Regions from separate parts of the Homo sapiens genome. Here regions 1, 2, 3 and 5 are each reported to be linked to region 4. Evidence: microRNA targets listed by miRTarBase, many of them from high-throughput screens and not tested one by one. Region 4 holds a microRNA gene; each other region holds the end of a gene's coding sequence.
What was found. The annotated mature microRNA hsa-miR-6797-5p reads AGGAGGGAAGGGGCUGAGAACAGGA and lies in region 4 at 2,309-2,333, shown strand. An mRNA with a match to its seed (bases 2 to 7 or 8) in the 3' UTR can be bound and repressed. Matches are read on the target gene's strand: a 7mer-m8 pairs with bases 2 to 8, a 7mer-A1 pairs with bases 2 to 7 and ends in A, and an 8mer does both.

Region 1 (4,053 bases), not on the chromosome of region 4:
AATGAATAAGTTATCATTTGCCTTTGGGTCCCATTCTTGAGTGGTCATGGAGAGTTCTGTAGCTCACCCTCTTTATACTCATAATTTGCACAAATTTCACCTAAGAGTATTTACTTAACCACTTTAATTCAATTTGTCTCTACCTAAGACATTTAATTCAACAAATATTTTTTAAGCTTCTCTATAAAAGGGACTCTGGCAACTTTCAGACCCGCACTGTAGCACCAGCTCTCTGCTGGCCCACCCCTTGCAGACTTTGGGCTTGCCTGCCTTCAAAATCATGTGAGTCAATTCCTTAAAATAAATATATTTTTATTTATTTATATATATGTTTGCACACACACGCGAATCTTATTTTTTCTGTTTCTCTGGAGAATTCTGACTAATGCACCCCCATTCACCATCCAGGCTTTTGAGGAGAAAGATACCAATCTTAGCAGCAGAGGACACTCTGGATAGAGCTAGGAGTTTGTTGCAGAGTCTGACAAAAGTTCCCTCTGCAGAAGGGATGGAAGGATAGCCTTGGGGGTTGATTTAGGACTGGGTGTATGACATGGGGGAAAAGAAATCCCTGGGGGAGCTAAATGAGGGGAGGTGGACCCCTTATGATAGTTTATCAGAGCAATCTAAGAAATCATGTAGGCCTCTAAGAAAGCATCAAGAATCAATGCAATTTGATTAATTGACTTAAAATATGTTGAACTTTTCAGCCTCCATTGTGTATTTTTGGTGCAATACTCTGTGCAACTATTTCATCCAAGACCAGAAGGGGCTGGAAGATTGCCTGCTTCACATTAAAACCCTCCTTATTGTATTGGTGCTGACACGACACAAGGATATGCAGTCTTTATCCAGTCCTTATTGCTCACAGAAAGATACCAGTCCTTACTGCTCACAGAAAGTAGTGAAGCCTCCCTTCACTCACAGAGCCCACACAGGTATGCCCTGGTTTATGTAATGAATGGGCTGCTACAAATAGGTGTGATGCATGCCTTTGTGAATCACTTTATATTTTGAAGACACATTAGAGGAGCTGGCTATTTCAAAGAAATTTCACAAGTGCCTCATTTCTTAATGTCACAAGCATTTCTGATTTATAATCATAACCCCTTTCTAATGTATTAGCTTATGAAGTTCCATTTTTTGCCTAAGAGGTTTAATCAAAGCAAGATAAAACTATGCTTAATAATATTCAGTTACCTGAAAGAGCTATTGCAGAAATGCCTAATATATTACCAGAAAGTAGCTTAATGTCTCAAATAAATGTCAAGTTGTCCAAATCAAACTGATAGGCAGCTTAATGAGGGATAAATGTCATAATTATCCATATTTCTCCACATTTTTTTTAGAAAAAAACATTCACACAATGAAGGGAATCAGAATCTGTTTTTATATCCCTAGAGTTATAAACATTTGTATCAAAATATTTACAATTATAGTATATGAAATAATCTATTAACGAAGAAGCCCAATACAGTACTAGAACAATCCACCAGAGTAATGCAAATTACATGAGACATAAATGTCACAGAAAAAAAGTAAAAGATAAGGGAATACATGGTTTACTCCAGTCATAGTTCAACTTCTTAACAAAATGTGAGTATTCCCTTTGGATATGTCTGAAATGTAAGTATGTTTTTTGCACTAAGACAGCCTTCTATAATCATGTGATAATGAAATCATAATGACAAAGTTCATCTTCCCACAGTTTTTGCTGGCCAATCTCTCTAACCTCAGCCTAGGTAATTTGGTGGCTTGCCCTCAACATTTCCTTAACTAGAATAAACATAGAGAAATAGAATTAGTAATAATCCTTTTACATAAATACCAAAAATCATGGCATAACAACTCCCCAAAAAGGAAAGGTATAAAAGAAATGGATGAGGAGAAAGCTAATAAAGAAAAGTAGGCAAGATGTCTCAGATTCTCCCTGGGGTAGATCTTCTCAGGGCGATAAAGAAAACGTCTTCCCAAAAAACCCCTTTAGACAGAATCTGAGATGGCTTAAAATAGCTGCTCCAGGGCAAAGCAATGCCTGCTTAACCAGGAATAACATACTACTTCTAAGTCCTGTATAGAGGTGCTCCTGCGGCAGCAGACAGCTCGTCTACCATCTGACTAGGTACCACAAGAGTTTTTGCTTTTTTATTTTAAAGAAAAGATCTGCCCATCACCTATATTTTTATTTATCTCATGGGATTTTCGTATTTTCCTGGGAATGCAGGCACTCTGTTCTTATCATGGCTGAAATACGGTAGGCTTAATACTTCACAATTATATAGCACCTTTCACCCAAGGGCCTGTTGTTTGGTTTTGGTTTATGTGTGTTTTAATCAGCTTCCAGAATTGCCATGCCTCACCTGTGAAGTGGGATAGGCAGGGTCCCCAAGAGGTGATCACTCCAGGTGGTGTCTAAGCCAGAGCTACCACTGAGCCTAGGAGCCCTGATCCTCAATATTGATAATTAGACAAAACTTCCTCAAAAATGTTAGAGGAAGAGTAATAGGATTGTGCTACAATGAGCCATGTCCATCTCTCTCCTGTTGTATACTTAAAAGAAACACTGACTGCATTGAGGGGAATCCTAAAAACATAACCCTAACATGGCACTGTTGCAAGACTGCCCCTTGGATCCCATAGTTTGTGTGGTACTTTTACCACCGAATTGTTCACTAGTGACTTTAGAGAAACTCCAGAAGAGCTGCCTTGGCTTTCAGCAAGAGGCCTAGCAAAGACCATGGCATGAGGTCTCCATGAGGGACAGCCGTGTGTGAGGTCTCGACTGGGCTCTGACCATCCCCCAGGTTTTCCATTGTGAAAAGGTCTCCTTCTTGGTTTAGCTAACCCACCAGCATGACCTTACAAACTCTCTTTCCTCCTCCCATTTTGTCACTGAATTCCACAGAGCTAAATATCTGTTCCAAAGAGGGACAATGGCTCACAGGCCAAAGCCCCCCAGTAGGCACTTCAGACTGGAATGTGATGTTTTGCTTTGGGTCAGAAGGGCAGGATGGCTTCCAGGCTTAGCGTATTCAGCACAAAGACAGTATCTGCTCTTGCCAGAACTTGTACCGCTATTTTAACTCAGTGCAGTAGGTCTGTGGACCTCAGTGCATGACCCAGAAGTGGGGCTGGTGTTGTGGCAGCTGATGGGGCCCCAGACAGTGTGTGTCACTAAGAACAGCTGGAGGCCAAGTCTGGTGGCTGCAGGGAGGCTCTCTGGACCCCATCAAGGGAGCATCAAAGTACTAGCCAACTACTTTCTCCCCAGGGCAGGGGCTTGGCAGTAGAGAATCCCCTCAGTAATGGTTTGGGATTTGACCTCCCCCCTTTGCTTCCCCCTCCCCCCTCCCCTATCTCGGTTTTTCCTGTACAGCAACCTCCACTTCCCTCCCAGATTCAACGGCTTCCTCCTCCCCACCCCCCAGATCCCCATGAACTCGTCCGGCCTTATTTCTTTCTCAGGACCAGATAGAGAACGCCGATGATGAAGCTGAAGCAGAAGCAGATCCAGCCCAGGATGTAGGAATAGCCGTGGTGATACTGCGTTCCATCACGATTCGCATAATGACTAGTGTAGATGGACACCCCCACAAGAATGCACAGCCCTGCAGGGGAAAAGGAGATTTGTCGGTGTGTTTTCTTACATTAAAGTCGAGAAAAAGTTTTACTAATTTTAAGAAGATCCTATTTCCCTCATTAGCAATAGGAAAATGAATTCTGCTTGTTTGTCCCTAAACAGGAGTTCTGATGGATGTCCCCTGGGCCAAGCTCGACGGTATGTTGATAAATTAGAGGTGTCTGGGCTCTCATGTCTGCACTGGTTTGTGTGGCCACGCTGTGATGTAAAACACAGAACCTCATGCCTACCACCCAGCTGTCCTGTCTGGCCCTTGTGGGTCTAGGAAAGCTACTCAGGGATGCAAAAGAGCATGTCCTTCCACCAAACCGAGTATATTGGGAAAGAACAACAATTAAGTGAGAATCACAATAATGATGTGCATTGTGGCAGTGGTTTCATCTTTCTGAGAACTCCTACCTTTCTGCCTTCTT
Region 2 (4,053 bases), not on the chromosome of region 4:
TTGCAGCAGACCTGAGGGATCAGCTAGTGACCGTGACAAAAGCTATGCTACAGTTTTACTCTTGCCCTCTCTGCCTCCCCCATCATGTTTCCTTGGTCCCTCAGTCCTGTTGGAGTAAGTTCCATATATAAAAGCTCATCCAAAACTTTGTTTCTTGGCAGAAAGAAAGAATTGTTCACTTACATCTTAAACCTAAATGATTCAGAGAAAGTGTAGAAGACCAGTTCTTATGTTTGTGTTCATGCCCTCCCTAGCCTTGCTAGGGTAACAACTGGGAAAGGAATTCTGTCCTTTGTGTCATTCTGGCACCTTCGAGTAGCAATTCTTAATTTACCGATTATTCCTTCTGAGGCGCACAGTCTGTGGATCCAGGTTTTAATCTTGTTTCTGTCCTGAACCATGTGATTTTGAGGAAGTCACTTCATCTTTGTGAGCTTCAGATTATCTTTTTCTCTAGAAAAAGATTGGACTAGATCTTGAAATACCTTTCTCCATGACTACAGGGTTGCCTGCCAACCAGAGCATATTGACTCCAACCTTTACTGAAATGGAGCTGTGACTTTGCTGGGGAGGGGGCAGGGTTGCATTTTAAAATTAAAAAAACAAAACAAAACACCTGATCTACAAGACAAATACTTTATCATAAGTTTGTCTTGTTATATTTCATTTTTTGTTTAAAAAAAAAAATCAAGCAAAAACTTGTCATTTCCAGTAAGACATTTACATTCCTGTCCAGAGAAAAAACTTGGCCATCACTCAGCTAACATAATGCTTTTTCAAAGTATGTTCACTTAAAGCAGTGCAGGGTAGGTTAACATGGTCACTGTATTTACATTATCAAAAAAATATGTGTATATGTATCAGTTTGAACTTGTTCTTCAAAGTTTCTCCAGTATATTGTCAAAAAAGATAAAGCTCAAGAAGTGGTTTAAATAAACTTTCTGCTAGCTTTCCTTATCAAGCGGGAAAAAAATCTGGTGCCTAGACTAGATTAAACCCGTATTCTGTCTTACAACGCAAAGAATATTCTGTACCTCCTTCATAAGCTTTGCTGCCTGTCTCCCCACTCTCATGACAGTAGGCTTCCTAGTCATCATACTTGTGGTTTCTGGCCTCCTGTGCAGCTTGGGGAAACCACAGTTTACCACTGAAAGAGCTGATGATAAACTGTCTTTGCTACAACCTGTTTAAGTCATGCTGAGCTTCTAGTGTTCCTCTTACCTCTTCCCAGACCCAATGCTCTCTGAATTATCAGAGAGCATTTAGAACCCAGTAAAGGTGGCAGAAGATGATGACCTTTATAGATGCATGGCTGTTTGGCCTGTTGACATAGGTGTCCTGGTGGCAAGAGCAAGGCAAGGTGTCAGATTCTGAAGCTGTCCTAAGCCTAGACTAACACAGTTTGGACGAATATAAAGCAGTAACCTCTGAATCAGCCCAGAGCCTCTCCGGGTTCTCCTTGGACAGAGCGATGGAGAGTCAGGAGAGTCAGGACCGACCTGGCCAGGCACTCCTGCTCTCTAGTCCTTGCCAGTCATCATCTGTCTCCAAGAGGCCATAGGGTTGCAGCCTTTGATTGATTTGCAGAGGCCTATTTGCTGTCTCCGTCAAAAGCCCTGGCTGGTGAAGTGTGACCCAGGATCAGCAAAGGAGGAATAATCCAGTCTGGCCTCTCCCACGGGACCACAACAGAAAACCTACTGGGTGGAGAGAACCCAGCGCTGGGCAAGAAGGAAGCAAACACCTCACTCAAGCCTAACAAGATTTCCTGTTTTCCCCCAAACAGGCACTGTTCTCCATCCTGCCCACCTCCAAACACTAGAGCATCGGGGCAGATGTTTTTGGAACTTGTTAGCCTCGCATCCCTCTAACTCCTGGGAAACTCGCTGGGGCCCTATGTGAACCCCTGGCCTTCCTTTTCCCCTAGGATATCAGATGGCTACAGACTGTGAGGAAGGAATTAGGCAGATGGTGCAGGACAGATCTTCCCCAGCCCCTCCCCCTACCCTTTTAAAAAGTAAGCCATCCCGAGTGGATAGCCTATTTCATCAGAGCTACTACAGCCGGAGCCTGACTCTTAAGACCCTGGAGGTGTGGCGTTTCACCCGAAAAATGGCAATTTCATTCCCCTAAGCAGTTCTGCCCATTTTCCTACTTGATCCCAGGGAATTTACGCCCAGAACGATGGAGACCATGGCGAAAGTTCAACATTCCACACAGGATTCCCCCTTCTCAATCAGATGAAACCTCACCATGCCCACTGCTTAGGAGCCTTCTACATGGCAGCTAACTGCCGAGCCCATAAAAGTCCTATATTGGGGAATAGACATAGCTTTGTGTTCCCCTGAGATGCCACCAGAAACTGCAAGAGAACCGCAGCAGCCCCACTAGGCTCACAGAGAAGAGGAACAGCAAGGCCTAGCTCCAGGCCAGGACAGTGGGACGTTCCCACAACAGTCTGTCCCCCAGGCTGCCCTTCATGCACCCAGCATGCACTGCGCTTTCCAGGCCCTCTTTTCCTGTGGCACAGGAGAATCAGAGTGAGTGAGATGAGCTAACTGGACGTCTGCCAACTGTCTGAGCTTTTGGCCTTTGGCAGTGGAGGGCTGGGTTAGAAAACAACTATAACAAAACTCTCAGCAACTTGAAATGTCCCTGAGTTTCCTATGATATACAGGGGAAAGCCTGTCCTTCCTGGCTGCTTTAATGGATTGTCTCTGAAGACACATCGCTGATGGGGGGCCCCGGGAAGGCCTCTCCTGCAGCCACTGCTCTTTCATACTGGGTCTCAGGGAATCACTCCCATCAGCTGAGCAGTGAACAACAAAAGGAACACGCTGCTCTCACTAGCTACAGCAGATTTTAGTCCCTGGTGGAAATGGAAGCCCAAAGAAGATCGTGGGTGGCCTCTGCAAGGAGTGCCAGGGGCAATGGGCCAGTGTTCCTGCTGACCCCTCATCAGCTGCCCTGAGATACCAGCCTGGACTCGAGTGTCCCCTTCTCTCCTCACCTGCACGCAGGTCCCCTAAGCAGACCTGGTTCACGCACGGAGACCTGTGTGGGTTAAGCCCCCATCTCACGAAGCAAATGTGAGAAAATCCGAATCCAGAACAAGGGGTTCAAGGTTATGAATAACCTGTGCTAATCCCAGAGGCCCCAGGACAGAGTAAGTGGGAACAAACACTGAGTGTAGGGAGGGGTAAGAACATAGAGGGTGGGAAGATGGGTACACGAGGCTGGGGTAGGAGAAGGAAAACTTGGGAGCTGGACTTTCAGGTCGTCAGATCCCACCGAGCCAGGATGTAGCCCTGCCCTCCTTTCCAGCCCAGCCACCTGCTGGAGTTTCACCCCTGCCCGGGACTGCTCTGGACGGAAGGCACATGTGAACACAGCAGTGTGGCATGGTGCAAATGGAATCTTTGTTCTCATCCTGGCTCTGTCACCAAGTGGCTCTGACCTTGGGCAAGTCACTTACCCTCTTCAGGTCTCGGCAATCTCACTGCAGAATGAAGGGATTCCACTAGTTCATCTATAAAGTCCCTTACGTGGCTTTTTCTTGATCTCCCTCATCATCCAGCAGCACTGAGCTCAGGCACTAGTGGGTTATTTTACAAGAGGAATCTGGACAGAATGTGATTTGTTCAGGTTGAAAAGGGAAAAATTAAGGCCCTGGGGGGATTGGGAGGGGACACCCCTCGGAGTTCACTCTCCCTCCCCAGTCTTTCCCTTCCCCATCCAAACGGCACTTGGGGTGGTTGGTCTGGAGCTCTGTGGTGCTGCTGGAGGCCACCGGCAGACCGGACTAGAGGTGTGTGTCTTCCTCCTCATCCAGGTCGTCCTTGGTCAGGTTGTCCAGAGGGACGATCCAGCTGTCCCCCAGCTCCCCGTTGAGGCTGACCACCTTCTTCTCCTGCATCTCAGAAGAGGTCTCCATCACTTCCAGTGTTGGGTTGTCATGGTAACCATTCTCCACTGTCTGCAGCTCCTCTGTTAGCCGCTGCTAGAGTGGGGAAGGTGACCGGTGAGAAGGGGGTTTCAGAGGGCTCTGAGCTT
Region 3 (4,053 bases), not on the chromosome of region 4:
TGTTGCCCAGGCTGGAGCGCAGTGACGTGATCACAGCTCACTGCAGTCTTGAACTCCTACTTTAGCCTGTACTCCTGCCTCAGCCTGCCTAGAACTACAGGCACACACCACCATGCCTGGCTAATTTTTTTTTTCTTGTAGAGATGGTATCTCACTCTCTGGTTTGCGACAAGACTAGTTGCAAACTCCTGGGCTCAAACAACCCTCCCACCTCAGCCTCCCAAAGTACTGGGATTCCCGGTGTGAGCCGCCACACCCAGCCTGAGTCAGCTCCCTTGACCTTTCTCCCCCCTCTACCTGCCCTGCCAGGTCTCCCACACATTCTCCAACTACCCGCCCGGCGTCCGCTACATCTGGTTTCAGCACGGCGGCGTGGACACTCATTACTGGGCCGGCTGGTACGGCCCGAGGGTCACCAACAGCAGCATCACCATCGGGCCCCCGCTGCCCTGACACCCCCTGAGCCCCCATCTGCTGAACCCTGACTGGTAAACAACTGCTGTCAGAAAAGGGCTGGGCTTGGGAAGGGGAGGTGGAGGCCAGGTGTCCCCAGACCTCTAACCCTTGCCCCTAGCAGCCTCTTCTTTGTGGAGCCTCTCAGTGTGGGCAGCCCTCGCATGCTGGGGTCGGGCCAGCTCTCCCCGAAAGGTCTTGACCTGAATGATGGCCGGGGAAGCCTGCGTGTGCCCCTTTCAGAGACGGAGCACCTGAGATGTGGGAGGTGCAGCATGTTCCCCTGGGCCCCTCAGAAAGTCGAGCTTGGAGGCCAGCCTGGATCTGTCTCTCCCTTCCCCTCCTGGGACCATTCTACCTGTGTTCTTTGACCCTCGGAGCAGGGACAGGCAAGACAACTGGCAAGCTTGCAGCTGCCCTGATGGTGCAGGTGCAGGGAGGTGACCATGTAACTCTGACCAATCTGGGAAGTGGAGGGTGGGCTCATGGGCCGTGCTCTGCCCCTGTCTGCTGCTCCCAGTCTCTCGCTCTGCCTGCCTGCTCAGAAGAGGTGGCTTTGGCCCAGAGGCTCAGGCCGGGACTGAGATGGACAGACCCAGGGTGGGGTGGGGTCCAGGTCGGGTGTGGACTGTCCTCACTGTCAGTGGAGCCCCAGAAGCTAGATGGGTACCAGGTGGGGTTAGGTTCCCAGAGGACTGAGGGAATCCTGTACAGGATGTCCCAGGGTAGATGGGGAGCAGGATTGGGACCTGCTCTGACAGCTGGACACATGAGCCCTGGATGAGTATGGTAGGGGGTTTGAAGAATCCCCTGTCCACCTCCCAAATCCAGGCCCGGCCCCCTCTGGCTTGGAGAGCATTCCAAGCCCCCACCCCACCCCTAGAACTGCCATTCCCAAGACCTCTGTCTCCCAGCCAACCACCCTTGGAACTTGCCTCTTGTCCTGCTGGAAAGATAGCAGTGTTCTCCTGACTTCGCCCTACTGCATGCAGCCAAATAAAAGGTGTGCCCAGTCTAACCTGTGCCCTGTGGTTTCTGGAAGGAAAGGCAGACTTTAGGTGGTCCTGCCTGGACCTGCAGATGGTACAATGGCATGGCTTCTGTCTAAGGTACAGAGGGGTTGGCATTTCAGGAACCAGGCCATCACAGAAACAGGTTCATGGGCAGACCCCTCAGTGAGCTGCAGGTATCTCACCTGGCAGCCGTCCAGTACTGCTGGCTTCCTCTGGAGGCCCAGCCACAGGCTGGGGTTGGGGTGTGTGGACATCTCTGGGCAGCTCTTGAGTCCACCTTGTGCCAGATCAGCAGTGCCACCCAGGCTCTGCCTCCTGGTGTTACTCTTTGCCAACAGCTTTACGGACATTGGATGAAGCCGAAGCATTTAGAATGGTGCCTGGCACACAGTTGGTGCGTGATATGGTTAAGCTTTGTGTCCCCACCCACATCTCATCTTGAATGGTAATCCTGGGTGTTTAGGGAGAGACCTGGTGGGAAGTGATTGGATTATGGGAGCGGTTTTCCCCCATGCTGTTCTCATGATAGTGAGTGAGTTCTCACGAGATCTGATGGTTTTACAAGTGACGGTTTCCCCGGCTCCCTCCTGCCGCCATGTGAAGAAGGTCGTTGCTTCCCCTTCACCTTCCACCACCATGATTGTAAGTTCCTTTTTTCTTTTCTTTTCTTTTTTTTTTTTTTTTTTTTGAGATGGAGTCTCGCTCTGTCGCCCAGGCTGGAGTGCAGTGGCGCAATCTCAGCTCACTGCAAGCTCTGCCTCCCAGGTTCGCGCCATTCACCTGCCTCAGCCTCTGGAGTAGCTGAGACTACAGGCGCCCACCACCATGCCCGGCTAATTTTGTTTGTATTTTTAGTAGAGATGGAGTTTCACCATGTTGGCCAGGGTGGTCTCAATCTCCTGACCTCGTGATCCACCCACCTCGACCTCCCAAAGTGCTGAGATTACAGGCGTGAGCCACCGCGCCCAGCGATTGTTTCTTGAGGCTTCCCCAGCCATATGGAACTATAAGTCAATTAAACCTCTTTCCTTTTATAAATCACCCAGTCTCGGGTATTTCTTTATAGCAGTGTGAACATGGACTATAATCCAGTGCTCAATAAGTACTCCTCACATTTAGCTATCTCAGTCAAGGGTGAGCTAGATAAGGGCTTTGGCCAGGGCAGGATCACCACCCACCAGCCCATGGCAAACTGCAAAAGGACGGCCTTCCACGGAGAACATGTAGCCCTGACTGCAATTAATGTGTCCTGGGCCAGTCCCCTTGTGCAGTACACAGCCTGCACAACCCTTGGTGGTTGCCTGAACAAGGTGCTTGCTAAATATTTGTTGACTGATGGAAGAAATTCATGAACTTAATCCTGATAAAAAACCTCAGAGGTTTTTTATTTTTTGAGACAAGGTCTGGCTCTGTCGCCCAGGCTGCAGTGCAGTGGTACAGTCTCCACTCACTGCAGCCTCCCAGGTTCAAGCGATTCTCCCACCTCAGCCTCCGGAGGAGCTGGGATTATAGACCTGTGCCACCACGCCCGGCTAATTTTTGTATATTTAGTAGAGACAGGGTTTTTGCCATGTTGGCCAGGCTGGTCTCGAACTCCTGACCTCAAGCGATCCTCCCCACCTCGGCCTCCCAAAGTGCTGGGATCACAGGCGTTAGCCACCTCCTAGCACCTCAGGTTTTTTACCTTTGAGTCTATGAAGCCTGCGGAGGTCACGCCCTAGGGAAAGAAGGAGCCCACTGGGTGTCAGGTCCTGCCTCTAGGGAGGGGACCGCGGGTCAAGGGTGGAGCCCTGGGCCGCATAAGGAAGGAACTAGTGCGGAGGTCCGGGGAGCGGCCGCGCGTTCGGGAGCTTCGGCCCTGCGTAGGAGGCGGGTGCAGGTGTGGGTGCTGAGCCGCCCGCCGCCTGGAGGGGGAGACAGCTTCAGGACACGCAGGCCGCAGCGAGGGCCCGGGCCCTGGGGATCCCAGGTTCGTCTTCCCGCGGCGAGGGTTAGGGGCCGGGCCGAGAGGGACGGCAGCGGGGTCCGGGGCGGGGGTGGGGACCGAGCGCAGCGCGTGACGCGGCGGCGGGGCCCAGCGACAACGAAGCCGAGGCCGTAGGCTCGGGCCGACCTGGAGCTCCGCCGCTGCGCCCAGGTCGCGTCCCCGGGGGGACGGGCGGCGGGCGAGTGGGGAGCCGGGGTCTCCGGCGCCTGGGCGTTCACGGAGCCTGCGGGCGCTGGTCCGGGCGGCCAGGGGTGGGGGGCGCGGGCGGCTGGGCCCGGACTTCGACTGGGGGCCTGGCCCCGGGGCCACCCAGGCGGAGGCTCTGCGGCCGCCTCCACCCCGGCCACATCCCGAGGCCGGCGCCGGGTTCGGAGAACTGTCAAGGGACCTCCAGGCCCCCACACGCCTGCGAGATCCGGCGCTTGCCTTGCCCCAGCCACAGTTTCTGTTTCCGAGAAACCGGTGAAGTAACAATGCCACTAGAGCTTGCTGGGAGGGTGGGTGCGGAGAAGGCGAGCACGAGACGCCGGGCCGGGCAGTTGGGGACCCCGATCGGTGTGAGAGGGCTTCCTAGGGCTGGCATGGACTTCCCCACCACAA
Region 4 (4,064 bases):
GACAGAGTCTCACTCTGTCACCCAGTCTGGAGTGCAGTGGCATGATCTTGGCTAACTGCAACCTCTGCCTCCCAGGTTCAAGTGATTCTCCTGCCCTGCCTCAGCCTCCCAGGTAGCTGGGGTTACAGCGGGTGTGCCACCACACCTGGCTAATTTTCTTGTAATTTCAGTAGAGATGGGGTTTCACCATGTTGGCCAGGCTGGTCTCAAACTCCTGACCTCAGGTGATTCTCCCGCCTCAGCCTCCCAAAGTGGTGGGATTACAGGCGTGAGCCACTGCGCCCGGCCTGATCCCATATATTTTAAATCATCTGTAGATTACTTATAGATTAATACAGGCCAGACATGGCACATACTTATAGTCCCAGCTACTTAGGAGGCTGAGGCAAGAGGATTGCTTAAGCCCAGGAGTTCGAGGCTGCAGTGAGCTATGATCACACCACAGCACCCCAGCCTGGGTGACAGAATGAGGCCCTTTTTTTGTGTTTTAAGAAAAAAGAAAAAGCACTAATACGGTGTAAATAATTGTTACACTGTTTTGAATTGTAGTTTTTTTCCCCTAAATATTTTTGATCCACCCTTGGTTGAGTCTGTGGATATGAAGGGCTGGCTGTATCTGGACCTGATCTCAGGGCAGGAGTGGGCTGGGAACAAGCGGTGTGTAAGAACTGTTTCTGGGCAGAAGCAGCCCACCCCACACAGACTACTGCCTGGCACTTGGCAGTTATGGAAGAACCCCCAATTCCCCCACTTGATCTTTAGAACTAGAGGAAAGAAATCACTAGAGCAGACTCAGACCAACTTGCTGATCTCTGGGTCCCAGGAACAAACCAGACTCTGCTCTGAGCTCCAGAGCTAGGCAGGACCATGTGATGGCTGAAATCTGGGTGCTTCCTGCATGTGGGCCCCGGTGCCATCACAGTGGCAGGACAGGGCAGTTCCTCCAGAGCTGTGTGACACGGAGCCAGTGAGTACCCTCTGGCACCTCAGTTTCACTCTTTAAAGGAGAGTAGCACTTGACACACCTGTTGAGTCCTCAGAGTAACCCGGCCCTCAGGTGAAGAAGGGTGGAGAGATCGAAAAGCATTTGGCACAGGGCCTGGCAGATGTGTGCTCCAGTTAATAGAAGCGTGCAAGCGTTTCTGGGGAGGCTGGTGTGTCGACTGGATTTTACGGAGCTTTTTTTGCAGGCAAGGAGGCTGGCTGGGGTGGACCAGGGACTTGCCCAAGCCAGCCTTCCCTGTGTCTGCAGAGGGGCTGGTACACATTCCAAGCAGGGGGCACCCACTGCACAGAGTGTCTGCCCTGCCCTTGTTATCCTGAGCTCTCCAGACTGAGGTGGCCCGGAGAGTGGCAATAGGTCCCTTCACTCCTGCTTCTCTGGGGCCCATGGAGATGGTCACAGCTAGGCTCCACCCCTACATAACCTCAGGTTCAATTCAACAGCAGTGCTGCTGGGATAGTAACCACTAAAGAAGTTGGCCCTGGAGATGGTGGGAGTGCCCACCCAGGGTGCAGGGCTGTTTGTCAAGGAAGAGCTAGCCGGGGGGGTGGGTGAGGAGAGGGGGCTGTCAGTTTCTGGGTGTTAGTGTGTGTTTTCAGTTTCCCTTCTTATAAAACAGTGAGAATTAGCTGTTTACACACAAGGAATTGTTTACCTGAGACCTTGATCAAGACCCTTAAATCTCCCTCTCACACTACCCCCAGCTTCCACAGCGCGGCACCTGTACCTCCGGGGTGGCGCTGGGGTTGGCTCCATGACCAAGATCTATGGGGGACGTCAGAGAAACGGCGTCATGCCCAGCCACTTCAGCCGAGGCTCCAAGAGTGTGGCCCGCCGGGTCCTCCAAGCCCTGGAGGGGCTGAAAATGGTGGAAAAGGACCAAGATGGGTAAGCAGGGTAGAGGGGGCTGCATTGATGGAGTAGCCTTGAGGCCCGGTCATCAATTCCCCAACGAATGGTCCTGCATAGTCTGCCCAGCCCCTCAGGCCCCTCCTATCAGAGGCAGGCAGGAGGGGATTCTGCAGAAAAGCAAACAGCACGGGGCCTCACCCCGACCTCTCTGGCTGACTAGCCCAGGCTCCAGGAGGGTAATTTAGCGACTATCTGCTTTCATTAGCCTGCTCGTTAACTTTTCCCAATTGATTTTTCGGGGCTTTTGATCTAAATGCTTGCACAAACAACACCCCGTCAGCTCCCAGGGGGGCTCCCACTACTGCCCCCAGCTCGTTAGAATGCACCTGACTAGGGCCCTCAGTGGGACTTGGCTGGCGGCAGGTGGCTTTTTGAGAAGCCTGGCTCACAGCCAGGAGGGAAGGGGCTGAGAACAGGACCTGTGCTCACTGGGGCCTGCATGACCCTTCCCTCCCCACAGCGGCCGCAAACTGACACCTCAGGGACAAAGAGATCTGGACAGAATCGCCGGACAGGTAAGGCCTGCGTTTGGGGTGGGGCTGGGTCCCTTAGTCGCTGCCCAAGCATTTCCAAAGCCCATACTTTGTCAGGTAGACTTATTTCCTTCTCTGGAGGGCACAGCCCAGGGTGCTGGTGGGGTCAGAGGAGGGCTGCCCAGAGACAGGAGAAAGGACAGTCCTGTCTGACTTTTCCTGTTGGTGCTGCTTAGAAATTTGGAGGCAGGCTGGCTGTGGTGTCTCACCCCTGTAATCCCAGCACTTTGGGATGCCGAGGCAGGCGAATTATCTGAGGTCAGGAGTTCAAGACCATTCTGACCAACATGGAGAAACCCTGTCTCTACTAAAAATACAAAATTAGCCGGGTGTGGTGGCACATTCCTGTAATCTCAGCTACTGGGGAGGCTGAGGCACAAAAATCACTTGAACCCGGGAGGTGGAGGCTGCGGTGAGCCAAGATCATGCCATTGCACCCCAGCCTGGGCAACAAGAGTGAAACTCCATCTCAAAAAAAAAAAAATTGGAGGGAACTCCAGCCCAGGTGCCACTGGGCATCTATCCACAGAGCACATAGCTGTACCCGTAGATGACTCCCCCTCCCCAGGTCAGCCTGCGATGTTTCCCCTTAGTCCTCATGCGTACTGAGCATCACATGGGCTGCTTGGGAGAGGTGGAGATAAGGGAGGGGGGCTGGTTCAGAACCCAGGTCTCCATTCAGATCCTGGCTGGCCAACACCCTGGGGCAGAGTGGCCACACCCCTGGTGCCACAGTCTCCTGTCTTGGCCTCCCTGTGGCCAAAATCTACCCTTGGCCACCTCAAGCATGGTAGTGAGGAGTCAGTGAGCTATAGTACAGCAGGAGCACCCAGGGCCTGGCATGAGCTCAATTCTGTATCACTGACTCAGGCCTCCTAGGAGCCTTGGAGCATTTAGTCAGTCAAGTGTCACAAAAGAATGGAAAGTGTCAGCCCTCTAGGAGTTGGGGGTGGTCTGGAAGGAGAAAGCTCTTCCAGGCAGAGTGGGGCTTGGCGCACACATCATTGCTGGTGGTTGGATGTTGGCCTTCTCACATGGCAGTGGGCGGAATTTGGACTCCACTCCGCCACTCCCTTCCTTTTTTTTTTTTTTTTTTTTTTTTTTTTTTTGAGACAGAGTCTTGCTCTGTCGCCCAGGCTGGAGTGCAGTGGTGCAATGTCAGCTCACTGCAACCTCTGCCACCTGGGTTCAAGCAATTCTCCTATCTCAGCTTCCCGAGTAGCTGGGACTACAGGCACACACCACCACACCTGGCTAGTTTTTATATTTTTAGTAGAGACAGGGTTTCACCATATTGGTCAGGCTGGTCTCGAACTCTTGACCTCAGGTGATCCACCTGCCTCGGCCTTCCAGAGTGCTGGGATTAAAGGTGTGAGCCACTGTGCCTGGCCACTCCCTTGAGACTCAGTTTCCACGTCTGTGAAATGGGGGAATACCCACAGTGAGAATTAGATGAGATAGATGCATTTGAAACCACAAATCGGGGTGCCCACCTGTGGTGGGTAGTTAGGTAGCTGTTACAAAGTGCCCCAGCAGAGACCCCCTTGACTAACTTTTATTCTTCCATCTTTTCCCACAGGTGGCAGCTGCCAACAAGAAGCATTAGAACAAACCAT
Region 5 (4,053 bases), not on the chromosome of region 4:
CCTCCAGTCCTTAGAACCCTAGCCCTCCTGCCCCTACCCCACAGAAAGAAAAATAGAGTAACTCGGGGTGCGGGGGAGAGGGGGAAAGACAAAGCAACCAAGACCCAGAGAGAGAGCAGAGCCAGGCCAAGGAGTGACAGGGCTGGAGCTGGGGTGTGTGCTGAGGTGCCTTTGGGGGCTCACTCTTCACACAGTAGGGGTTCAGTCTATGGATTCCCGATGTCAAAGAGCAAGGTGGCAGGGGATGGCAAAGGGAGCGCAGGGGGAACCATGGAGCAGGCGGCAGGTCCCAGGAAGAGAAAGGAGAGAGGAAGTGGAGAGCCCGGGAAAGAAGCAGGTGAGGCACCGGGAGGAAGGAGGGAAGGGCTATGGGAAATGGGATTGAGGGAGGGATAAGAGGACCCCTGAAAGGGAATGACAATCAGGGAGGTGTGCGCGGGAGGTGTGAGCAGAGGATGCTGAGCTGAGCCAGCCAGGGCCGAGCTGGGCAGGCTGTTACAGAAACAGGCACGGGGTTTGGGTGGGGGTGGGGACGGAGGGCAGTAAAGTGGGGCCAGGGGCCCCCAACAACCAGCTGGAGGCTGATTGATAGTTCTGTAGTGAGGGGACGGGAGCCAGGCAGAGGAGGCCCTGGAGGAGAGGAGCGGGAGGGGAGGAGGAGGGAGCCTGGGGGAAGCGATGGGTCGGATGCAGGATGAGGAATGGACATTTTGAAGAACCAGGTGTGAGGCTAGGCCAGGGCGAGGGACAGACCAAGGGGTATGTGAGAGACAAAGGGGAAGGGGGACAGGAAGAGGAGGGAAGCTGGAAAATGGAGAGGAAACCTGGGGGGCTGGGAAGCCCCCAACAGGAGGGGTAGGGAAACCCAAGGTGAGCCGGTGGTGGGGGCTAGGTCTCTGGGGGCTGATGAGAGCCAACTGCTGCTTGGTCAGGGAGGGGGCTGGGAAGGCAAAGGGTTAATGGACTCTGAGATCTGTGGGTCCTGTAAACAGATGCAGTTGCCATAGCAACCAGCTCCATCACTCTGGCTGGAAAAACCCACAAAGGCGGGGGGGGGGGGGCAGCAGACAGACAAACTGCCCGACGGACTAATGGAGGCGGCTGGATGGTGGTGGGGGGGGACATAGAAGATAAAGCAACAAAAATGCCAGAATTCCACCCCCCACCTCACGGGCTGCATGGGAGCAGAGGACGAGGGCAGAGGAGGGGGTCAGAGACCGACTGACATACACACAGACAGGCGGGGGCGGCGGAGGAAGGGGGGCCCCGGGAAGAAAGCCGACCACGGGGGGTGTTAATGGGGGCGAAGCCGACAAGCCGACGGCTGGGGGATAGCAAGTTTCCCCTGGGCTCTGAGACCACCCGCCCTGGGTCCCTCCAGCTCCGCGTGGCCCCTGCCCCCCACCCCGCCCCCAGCCCCAGCCCCAGCCCGGCCTTACGTGCCAGATGACAAAGAAGATGAGGGAGGCGCACAGCACCAGGGTGAGCATGTAGCAGAACGCGGCGAAGGTGAACGCCATGGCCCCCGCGCCGGGCGGCGGCCCGGGGGGCGCCAGCGCGGGGCCCGGGCGCAAGGGGACGCCCCCCGGCCCGCGCTTAGGGCCGGCCGGGCATGGCCCGTGGGGCTCGGGGGACGTGGGTGATGCGGCCGGGACCGGGACCGCGGGGCCGTGGGGGGCGCGGGGCGCGGGCCGGTGGGCTCGGGGGGCGCGTCCGCTGCCGGCTGCCCGGGCCCCGATCGCTCATCCTGCGATCCCTCGCCCGCGGCTCCCTCGCTCTCCAGCCCGCGAAGCCGGCGGGGCGGAGCCGGGGGCGGGGCCGCCGCGCGAGCGGCCTCGGGCGGGGCTGGGTCTCCGCGGGCCCCTCGTCTGCCCGCCCGGCTCGGGCGCCACCCCCAGCCCCGACAAGCCCGCGGCCGTTCACCCTCCGGACAGCGTAGACGCGGCCGCCCCCGGCACCCCGCACCCCTCGGCACTCCAGCCACCGGCACAGCCGCACTCGGCCCCCTCGGGCGGGCGCTCAGGGCAAAGGCTGAAGTGCGAGGCACTTGTCACTGTCGGAGACGGCAGAAGCACCTGGCTGGGACACACAATGACGCCAGGACAGGGGCTGAATGGGAGCAGTGGGGTTTTGGGGGGCGCTGAAGGAGGTTGGGCCAGGTGCAGTGGGGGCCCTCTCAGCGGCTGCGCGACCCCACACCTCTGCCGTGTGCCCCGCGGGAGTTGGCGGCGGCACGCCAGGTATGAGCTGATGGCCGCCTGCCTCTTTCCCTGACAGAACGGTGCTGGGCCCTTGGGGACAGACCACAGAAGCACAAGCAGCTTTCCTGGCCTCAGGAAACGGGGTCAAGGGCTTTTGCCAGCAGCCTTAGGACACAGAAACCAAGCCAGGACCCCCGTGCACCCCACCAAGCCCAGGGTTCCAGTTCCATCCCCCCACCCCAAGGCTGGGCTTAGACCACAGACCACACTTGGCCACCACAACTTCCTTGCAAAAACCCTCAGCTCACCCGAGGGCCAATGGAAATTTATTAATTTTTTTTGTCCTTTTCCATCTTTCCCCAAGTGGCTTTTCCTTGCAAAATGCCTGACATGACACCAGAGGGGAACCTGGGAGCGGGGGGCACCCCAAGGGGGCAGCCCAGGGACTTAAATACAAGCTGGAGGGCAGGGCACAGGTGGGACAGGCAAGAGACAGCACGAGGGACATGGCTTCTCAGGGAGACCAAAGACTTGCTTTCTTGCAGGAAGCAGCTGTGCCAGAGGGCAGGGGACTAGGATCCTGGGTGCAGAGTGGGTGAGCAGAGAGGCCCCCAATCCTGGATGGAACCCACATTCCCCAGAGAAGTAGCGGCAGGGGATGAGGGCCTTCCCTGGTGGGCTCCAGAGACGGAGTGGGGAGTGAGCCAGATGTGCTACCTTGGGGAAAGGGAGGAGGTGCTAGCAGAGTGAGGGTTAAGGCTGGTGCCCAGCCTCTGGCACGGTGGGCCTTCCGCCTCCGCCTGACATGGGGACAAAGGGGCACGGTGGGCAGGCAGCGCATGGGTCTGTCTCTGGCAGGGCAGAGGGCGGCAGGAGCAGACTCCCTCCAGGCTCAAGACACAGGCCCAGCACTGCTACCCGCCCACCCGCCCTAGATATACTCAGATCCCACCGCAGCTGGACGGCTCGAGCTGGGAGTGTAGGAAGGGAGAGGAGGCAGTGGGGAGAGGAAAGGGTGGGCTGCTGGGCCCCTGTGGCCTCCATGCCTGTCCTGAGGTCCAGCCCAGGGCCCTGGATCCCAGGTCCTGGATCCCCTGGCCACATTCCTCGCCCTGGGCACTGACTGCAGCCAGGGCAGTAGAGGCCGGGGAGACCCTCAGTTCTTGGGCAGGACAGCAGGAAGAAGAAGGAGAGAACCCAGTGCAGCATACATGGGGGTGGGAGGGACACCGACAGAAGAGCCCTCGTTCCAAAGAAAGGTGTGTAGGGGGGCATCTTGGAAAGTCACCTAGAGGCAACAGCACAGCAGGCCTCCGCCCTGCCTGGCCACAGGCCCTGAGTGTCCTCCCTTAGGGACCCTGACAGAACCGGGGCTCAGGGCAGCAGGCAGATGGGCCAGAAGGAGATGGGGAGCCCAGGACACCCCAAAGCCACAGACTCAAATGCCCCAGGAGAGGGAGAGGGAGGTACCTCCTGCCCCCTCCAGGGACATCATCTGGAGAAGGTGCCCCCTCCTGTCCCACTCCATGTGCCCCTCCTAGCAACAGCCACCGCCAGCCGGCTTTACAGGGGTGCTGTCGATCTTGAGATTGGGCCGCTCGCCCCCAGAGGCTGCTCCAGGCCCCATCCGCTTTTTGATTTCAGCAGCCATGGTCATGAACGCCTGCTCGACATTGGTGGCATTCTTGGCGCTCGTCTCCAAGAAGGGGATGCCCAGAGAGTCTGCAAACTCCTGACAAGGGAGAGGAGAGAAGAGGAGGGGAGAGAAGAGGAGGGGAGAGCAGGTGAGGGGCAGCAGGCCCCAGCGCCCCGACCCCGGGCAGACCGGCCCGTCTGCTACCTTGGCTGTGGT

Region 1: the mRNA of EMP1 is a reported target of hsa-miR-6797-5p. The part of its 3' UTR that is shown has no 7-base or 8-base seed match.
Region 2: miRTarBase lists PODXL as a target of hsa-miR-6797-5p. Seed matches in the 3' UTR shown: 7mer-A1 at 2,600-2,606.
Region 3: miRTarBase lists FBXO44 as a target of hsa-miR-6797-5p. Seed matches in the 3' UTR shown: 7mer-m8 at 2,048-2,054.
Region 5: the mRNA of RAB1B is a reported target of hsa-miR-6797-5p. Seed matches in the 3' UTR shown: 7mer-m8 at 3,422-3,428 and 7mer-A1 at 2,661-2,667.

What each region holds. Positions count from the first base shown.
Region 1 is chr12:13,214,089-13,218,141 of GRCh38, reverse strand. EMP1 (epithelial membrane protein 1) reads right to left here. Exons shown (of 5, transcript NM_001423.3): 5 at 1-3,608. The coding sequence ends at 3,451. Among named protein-coding and RNA genes, the nearest start is that of EMP1, 19 kb to the right of the region's middle.
Region 2 is chr7:131,500,509-131,504,561 of GRCh38, forward strand. It overlaps PODXL (podocalyxin like), which reads right to left. Exons shown (of 9, transcript NM_001018111.3): 9 at 1-4,000. The coding sequence ends at 3,803. Among named protein-coding and RNA genes, the nearest start is that of PODXL, 54 kb to the right of the region's middle.
Region 3 is chr1:11,660,821-11,664,873 of GRCh38, forward strand. FBXO44 (F-box protein 44) reads left to right here. Exons shown (of 6, transcript NM_033182.7): 6 at 310-2,507. The coding sequence ends at 453. It overlaps FBXO6 (F-box protein 6), which reads left to right and starts at 3,380. Exons shown (of 6, transcript NM_018438.6): 1 at 3,380-3,435. RefSeq lists silencers at 3,446-3,665, 3,716-3,785 and an enhancer at 3,906-3,955.
Region 4 is chr19:41,867,324-41,871,387 of GRCh38, forward strand. MIR6797 (microRNA 6797) reads left to right here and starts at 2,304; the gene lies at 2,304-2,375. RPS19 (ribosomal protein S19) reads left to right here. Exons shown (of 6, transcript NM_001022.4): 4 at 1,708-1,891; 5 at 2,376-2,430; 6 at 4,028-4,064. The coding sequence ends at 4,054. RefSeq lists an enhancer at 2,152-2,710.
Region 5 is chr11:66,275,924-66,279,976 of GRCh38, reverse strand. It overlaps RAB1B (RAB1B, member RAS oncogene family), which reads right to left. Exons shown (of 6, transcript NM_030981.3): 5 at 4,042-4,053; 6 at 2,485-3,933. The coding sequence ends at 3,739. CNIH2 (cornichon family AMPA receptor auxiliary protein 2) reads right to left here and starts at 1,802. Exons shown (of 6, transcript NM_182553.3): 1 at 1,440-1,802. The coding sequence starts at 1,520. LOC107984340 (a long non-coding RNA gene) reads left to right here and starts at 1,452. Exons shown (of 2, transcript XR_001748274.1): 1 at 1,452-1,482. RefSeq lists a silencer at 1,697-2,026.